Homo sapiens: one gene and its partner. The protein of the gene in region 1 purifies or fractionates together with the protein of each later gene. This does not show direct contact. Each region holds a gene or a part of one and is shown in the gene's direction. Other genes may lie near its edges. The genes, in order: CIMIP6 and NEK9.

Region 1 (3,822 bases):
CTGTGCCAGTGTCAGCCTCCTCCTACTCCACTTCTTTCCTCATCTCTCTGTGTGTTAGGTATAGTGATTTAACATTTAGATGGAGATTGCTTTTTGTGAGCTCTCTTCGTACTGATGACATCTGTTCTTGTCATGGACAGCACACCATGGCTGTGAATGTCAGATCTTCTTGGGGCAGGAATTCCTGTGGTTAAATGTTCTTTAATTTCATGAGCTAAACCCCTTTAAGGGCCATATTGAGGGTACTTCATTTTGTACACTTGCTTATGCTCTCGTACCAATTATTTCAGAAAGAAATCAATTGTTATTGTTAGACCAGACCTACACTGGGGAAATTAATTTGGTACCAAAATCCAGATTAGTGAAGTTCTTACATTTCTTACAAAGGCTCATGAATGACTCTGAGCTCTAGTTCAGGGTTGAATTTAAAACTGTTCACTGAACTCATCCTTACATTGGCAATACTAAGAAAAAGAAGCTGGTTTGAGAATAGAAATATGAAACATAAAAGTTTAAAAACTTAATCCCAACTAATTTTCTCTTACTCCTACTCTATAGGTATGTTGGAAAAAAAATGAACAAAGGTGTTAAGAGCTGCTATCATCAAGACTAGGTGACAGAATAGTAGTAGAATCATTATTAGCACTGGACCTTTAAGAGATGGTGAAAGTGAGTTTGAGATGAAATAAGAGCTCAGATAAGGGAATCTGTCAGTGAATATGAATGAGGAGAGTTACAGAGAAAGACTGAAGATACATCACTGAGTTACAAGCATGTCTGATTTGGGTGTGGCAGGAAGGGAGTGTGTATATTTTAAAAACATAGCCTGGGCAACATGGTGAGACCCCATTTATACAAAAAAATAAAAATAAAAAAATAGCTGGGTGTAATGGTGTACGCCTGTGGTCCCAGCTACTTGAGAGGCTGAGGCAGGAAGATTGCTTGCACCTGGGAGGTCAAGGCTGCAGTGAGCTATGTTCATGCCATTGCACTCCAGCCTGAGTGACAGAGTGAGACCCTGCTCAAAAGGAAATAAAATTGGCTGGGCACAGTGGCTCACACCTGTAATCCCAACACTTTGGAAGGCCAAGGCAGGAGGGTAACTTGAGCCCAGGAGTTTGAAACCTTCCTGGGCAACATAGTGAGACCGAGCGCTACAAAAATAAATAAATAAATAGCCAGGTGTGGTGGCAAGCCTCCGTAGTCCCAGCTACTTAGGAGGCTGAGGCAGGAGGATGGCTTGAGCTCAGGAGTTCAAAGCTGCAGTGAGCAATGATTGTGCCACTGTGCTCCAGCCTGTGCAACAGAGCAAGACCCCATCTCTAAAAACAAATTTTAAAATAATAAAATAAAAACCAAAAACAATGAACTTAAATGTACTCATTTCTAACTATCCAAGAAATAATAAAGAATGTATATTTCACATATTTGTAAACTGTTCCTTTAAGATGACAGGTTTCTTTTTAAAGGTTAGCCTGGTTAAGAAAAAAACTGGTTGACGGTAATGCTGTCTTTATAATAAGAGTAAAGAAAATAAACTTGCCTAAATATTTTAAATGACACCTGTTGTTTTAAGTGTTTTTGCTAAGATAATATCTTTAGGATGCAAGACGAGATTGGTTGGTTTTATTTGTTTAGAAGATTTTTAAGATTTCGTACATTTCTACCTAGGAACATAAAATTGGGGATGCTAAAAAAAGTAAGTTGTTTTAGCTCAGTCACTTCCAAAGAAAACTGGTTTGATTGTCTTATATTTTTGGCTGGGTGCGGTGGCTCATGCCTGCTATCCCAGCACTTTGGGAGGCTGAGGTGGGCAGATCATGAGGTCAGGAGTTCGAGACCAGCCTGGCCAACATGGTGAGACCCCCCCCCATCTCTACTAAAAATACAAAAAATTAGATGGGCATGGCGGTGCGTGCCTGTAGTCCTAGCTATTTGGGAGGCTGAGGCAGGAGAATTGCTTGAACCTGGCAGGCAGAGGTTGCAGTGAGCCAAGATCGTGCCACTGGACTCCAGCCTGGCAACAGAACAAGACTCCATCTCAAGAAAAAATAAAATAAAATAAAATAAAAATATTTTTAAATATTGGTACTTTAAAGGAGATTATACTAGGTTGGTATTTTCAAAAGTTTAATTTTCAGAGCACTGACCCTTGCCTACATGCTTAACAAAATAAATTTGCAAAGTCAAATATGTTTTGGAAAAGCTGTATTTTTATAAACCTTTCTCAGAGCTTCACAATTCACATTGGTATATAAAGGTTCTGAGAAATCTTGTGATAAACTTATTTAACTTTGCTTTTCTCACTATTTCCCAAAGTCATTTAACTGTGGACTCCTTTGTATAACACCTATTAATATGCTGGAGAACTAGTGTTCCACAGAACACAATTTTGGAATTTTTTATGGGGGGGTGCATTATGAACTGCTTAAAAACATTTTTTTAAAGCACTCATAGCATCTATAGCAAAATAGAGATGAATTTAGGTACAGTGTAACCAATGTGACCTTAGCTGCCCTAGTGTTTGTGATAGTACTTCAATTTTTTAAAGCCACTGAGCTCTACCAACAAAATGCGATTGTTTATGTTTAGGTTTTGTCAAAAGCCCACATTTCCTTGGGAATCCACAAAGTATGATTTTATGTTCCACAGATGACCACCACCAGCCATCTTGGCTACGCGATTGTGGCTGTGGAGCTTGGCTTACGACCTCTTGCATTCACTTAACTAGTTCCTCTAGGATACTTCACTTGCTTTTTACTACTTCTCCTCTGAGGATTCTCCCTTAATTTCTCAAAGAATGGAAAATAGGTAATCTTTACTAAAACATCTCTGAGAGCTTAGGGATACTAGGAGTATAACATAGAGACTGCCTTACACTGGCTTCCAAATGTGACTAAGGGACCCACAGTGCAACAGCCCTTGGCCTTCCCAGAGCTGCAGGTTAGAAGGAGCCCCGTCATCCGGAATCTCCAGGCAACTCCTGACCATGGAACCCAGTGACTATCATCCTGGGGCAGGAAAGAAGACAGTCCTTAGACTGGTAGGGATAACTCCTCTCTGGGTCCAAAGTTTGAGTTAGGCAAAACCCCCTCTACAATCTGCAAGATATGATCTGTTCCCCAGAGCCTAGACAAAGCCATCACGCTAGGTAACTTCCCAGCTTATTTTGTCATAAATAACTGTGTTAACCCCCCACAATCCAATGTAAGTGATGGTACACAGAACAGTAAATTTTTTGTTAGTCTTTCCCTTCAGTATGATACAAAGGTAAAGACGAGGCTCCATCCATGTCTTTCCTTAATCTCATAATCTTTTATGAATAAATGCTTGGACCAAAAGGGCACGCACATGTTGCATGGGCACATAAGCACTTTCACTCTTCCAGGAACAAACCAAACTTTTTAGGCATAAGGAAGACTATCCAGAAACAAGAAAGACAACCTTTTTTTTTGGACTGTAAGATTTCACTCAGCTAAAGTGAAGATGCATCCAATTTATAACACTCATCAGAACACTTTCACAAACTGCAGAGCCTTAAAGTCACCAGTCACATTTTAGGAAAAACTGTTCTCTATTTCCTTTATGTTTGTGAAACAAAGACTATTTTGGCAAAATTCTCAGTTTAAAAGAAATTTGCTCAAAAGATGAAATTATCTCTCTGCTCTAAGGCTAGCTTTGCATTATGCTTTTAAGAAAAAAATATAGCCAGGCGTGGTGGCTCATGCCTATAGTCCCTGCTACTCAGGAGGCTAAGGTGGGAGGATCACCTGAGTCCAGGAGTTTGAGGCTGCAGTGAGTTGTAATCGTACCACTATGCTC
Region 2 (3,822 bases), on another chromosome or scaffold:
ATGGTAAGATAGAGTTCAGTGGGACTTTTCCAGCAAGACTTTCTTAGACTCATAATTACGTTGAGGAGAAGAATATAAGAAGAGACATATACAGTGATAAAAACTTTAAATGAATTTCTAGAGTTTAAGAGAAACTTTTCAGGCCTTGGAGAATTTTTGAAGTGGTGTACGAAATAAGGAGAGGGATTTTCCCCTGCATACCCAAATTTTCTCTTGTGATTACAGTTCCATTTTCAAACTATCTTTTCTTTGGTTGGATTTTACCTTTATTTTTCAAGGTTTTTCTTTATGAAATGACATTAGTTAACCAGAGTGTGGCTTGGCAGCACTTGATACAGTATTTAATAAGATCTTATAGGTGATATTTATTTATATTGTCTTCAGCTAAAGCTATCCTATTGAAAAGTGGTCCAAAGATCATAACTGAGTGAAAGTAATATATAGTAAAGCATGGCCCTATTTATCTGGTCCCTGATTTCTTCACATCATTTTGCTTGTAAGATAGCAATATAGCCTAGTTGTTAAGAAAATAGACTCTAAAACCAAGTTTCTCTACTTTCTAGCTCTATAACCTTGGCAAGAAACTTAACTTCTCTGTGCCTCAGTTTCCTCATTTTATTTTTATTATTATTATTATTTTTTTTGAGATGGAGTTTTACTCTTGTTGGAGTAAAGGCTGGAGTGCAATGGTGCCATCTTGGCTCACCACAACCTCCGCCTCCTGGGTTCAAGCAATTCTCCTGCCTCAGCCTCCCAAGTAGCTGGGATTACAGGCATGCGCCACCACGCCCAGCTAATTTTTGTATTTTTAGTAGAGACAGGGTTTTGCCACGTTGGCCAGACTGGTCTCGAACTCCTGACCTTAGGTGATCCGCCCACCTCCGCCTCCCAAAGTGCTGGGATTACAGGCTTAAGCCACCATGCCCAGCAGTTTTGTCATTTTAAAATGAGTTTGTTGGCCAGGGACAGTGCACACCTGTAATCCCAGCGCTTTGAGAAGCCAAGACAAGCAGATCACTTGAGCATAGGAGTTTGAGGAAAGCCTAGGCAACATAGTGAAACCCTGTCACTACCAAAAATACAAAAAATTAGCTGGGTGGTGTGCACCTGTAGTCACAGCTACTTGGGAGGCTGAGGAGGGAGGATGGCTTGAGACTGGGAGGCAGAGGTTGCAGTGAGCTTGTGAGCTCAGACCGCTGCACTCCAGCCTGGGCGATGGAGCCAGACCCTGTCTCAAAAAAAAAAAAAAAAAAAAAAAAGCTGGGCGTGGTGGCTCACGCCTGTAATCCCAACACTTTGGGAGGATCACAAGGTCAGGAGATCGAGACCATCCTGGCCAACATGGTTAAACCCAGTCTCTACTAAAAATAACAAAAATTAGCTGTGCATGGTGGCGCGTGCCTGTAATCCCAGCTACTCGGGAGGCTGAGGCAGGAGAATCGCTTGAACCAGGGAGTTGGAGGTTGCAGTGAGTGGAGATCATGCCACTGCAGCCTGGTGACAGAGCGAGACTCCATCTCAAAAAAAAAAAGTTTGTTGATAACAGTACCTACTTTCTAGGATTGTTGTATTACATGCATAGTGCTTGGTAGGTAGAAAGTGTTTGCTACATACTGTACTAGCTGTTAATCATCTTATTGCACAGGAGAACCTCCAAAGCCCTTTTCTGAACTGCATGCTAAAGAGGTCCCAGCATATTCGTCACTTACGACTTCCTTGTGTAAACTCTTGTATATTATGATCATTGGTGATCAATGCCATATACAAGATTCTGTTAAAAATTTTCGAAGTAGCAGAAGCCCTAGGTAGTTAACTTCTTTTGTGGTTAGGAAGAACTGGAACAAATGATACATTTATTGAAACTGAGTTATTAAGTTGCAGGGGAAAAGAAGTTGTAAAAACTTACCCAGGGCTAAAGTGTAAGTTATAGTTGCAGGTGGGATGTAAGATGAACCATGATTACTTGCAGTCTGTATTACTTGGTAAAGGAAAGAGAGAAGTAAATTCACACTTATTCCACAGGAAGAAATTAGTAAAGAGAGTAATGATAGGAAACAGTCTAGGGGTAGACCCTAAATTTTGGGAAATATTTCGGTGTGAAGTAGAAAATTTGTCAATATATACCCTATAAATACAAAACATTGCATCACAGGTGTAACCCAATTTTTTTCTTTTTTTCCTGAGATAGACTCTCACTGTCACCCAGCCTGGAGTGCAGTGGTGCGATCCCAGCTCACTGCAACCTCCGCCTCCCAGGCTCAGGCGATCCTCCCACGCTCAGGCGACCCTCCCACCTTAGCCTCCTGATTAGCTGGGACCACAGGCACATGCCCCAACAGCTGGCTAACTTTTTGTATTTTTGGTAGAGACAAGGGTTTTGCCGTGTTGCCCAGGCTGGTCTTAAATTCCCAAACCCAAATGATTTGCCCACCTCAGCCTCCCAAAGTGCTGGGATTATAGGCGTGAGCCAATGTGCCCAGCCTAATCCAGATGTTATAGTAGTCACAACTGGGAGAGTTGTTACAAAAATATTGTAGAGTCCTTAAAGGAGAGTTCTAGAAAAGAAATCTGATTTTGAATATACTTCACTTGTTGGGAACAACAAGAATGGTCTTTACTCACATCTTTTCTAAAAATGTCTTTTTTTTAATTACGCCTCTTGTGTTAGAGAGGGAGATCTTTGAAGAATATTTCTGATGCGGTCCTTGAGAGATGGGAAGAGTTTTGTGCCCATGTGAAAAGTCAAAAGAAGTAGTTGCCTATGGAGAGAAAGCAGAATCCTTCATTTCCTTGTGTCACCTAAAAAAACCTGTTACAGGAGCCAAGCTTTGATCTGTATTAAGCAATTCAAATCTGTGTCTTGTTTAATTGCAGGAGGGAACCTGTATGACAAAATCCTTCGTCAGAAGGACAAGTTGTTTGAGGAAGAGGTAATTCATATTTCTGTGGAAGGAAGTTAGAATTGTAGTGTTGTAATTCTTGCATTCTAGTTCTGTATTTACTCTTCCAATAGTGAAGAGTGTTTTTTTCCTTTTGTTCAGACTCCTTCCAGGCTCTGATATTCATGAGAAAGGAAACCTCTAACAAGGAAGCTGTCTATAGCTGCTTCCTAAACGTTTTACCTCCACATCATGATTCTCTGTGGGCTTTCTTTCCTGGTTCTATTACTGCGTACTGGTATGCCCAGTTTTCTATAACTTTGCATTCTTCCTGAATTTTCCTACATGTCTGCTTTACCATACTATATATTATAATGACATTGGAACTATTTTATGAGGAACCTGTTTTTTGTGGTTTTTTACCCCTTCACTTTTCTTTGCCTACTCAACCTGCAAGGAAGAGATGTCAAGTCATGTTGAATCATAACTTCTGGTTGCAGTTTTCTTTGTTTTGTTTGTTTATGTGTGTGTGTATTTACTTAAATGGAGCTTTTTGTTTCTAATCCAAATATTTATTTTTTCTCTGCAGATGGTGGTGTGGTACCTATTTCAGATTGTTTCAGCAGTGAGCTGCATCCATAAAGCTGGAATCCTTCATAGGTAAGAAGTAAAAAAAATTATGGATGGATTCTTCCCTACCAATTCAGCCCCTACCGTGGATACCCCCCCAACAACACTTTTATTTTCTTGGTTAAGCAGCCAAGAGTTTTTCCATTGATATCACTAGGAAAGGAAAGTAATGAGCAATATTATTTTCACTCCCTGAGGTTAAACCATGTTTATGATCTAGGAAGAGTCTCCTCAGTAGCCAAGTACTACTGAAGTCATTTTACAGACAAAAATTTTAGAGTTCAGTTTGTTAATTCATCAGTAAAGCCTAGAA

Evidence for each region.
Region 2: the proteins of CIMIP6 (region 1) and NEK9 purify together in Homo sapiens (affinity purification with mass spectrometry; one large-scale study listed by BioGRID and IntAct). This does not show direct contact.

The regions. Positions count from the first base shown.
Region 1 is NC_000002.12:54,337,112-54,340,933, forward strand, and holds part of CIMIP6 (ciliary microtubule inner protein 6), read left to right. Parts: intron 1-3,822.
Region 2 is NC_000014.9:75,120,227-75,124,048, reverse strand, and holds part of NEK9 (serine/threonine-protein kinase Nek9), read left to right. Parts: coding exon 1-3; intron 4-2,874; coding exon 2,875-2,930; intron 2,931-3,468; coding exon 3,469-3,539; intron 3,540-3,822.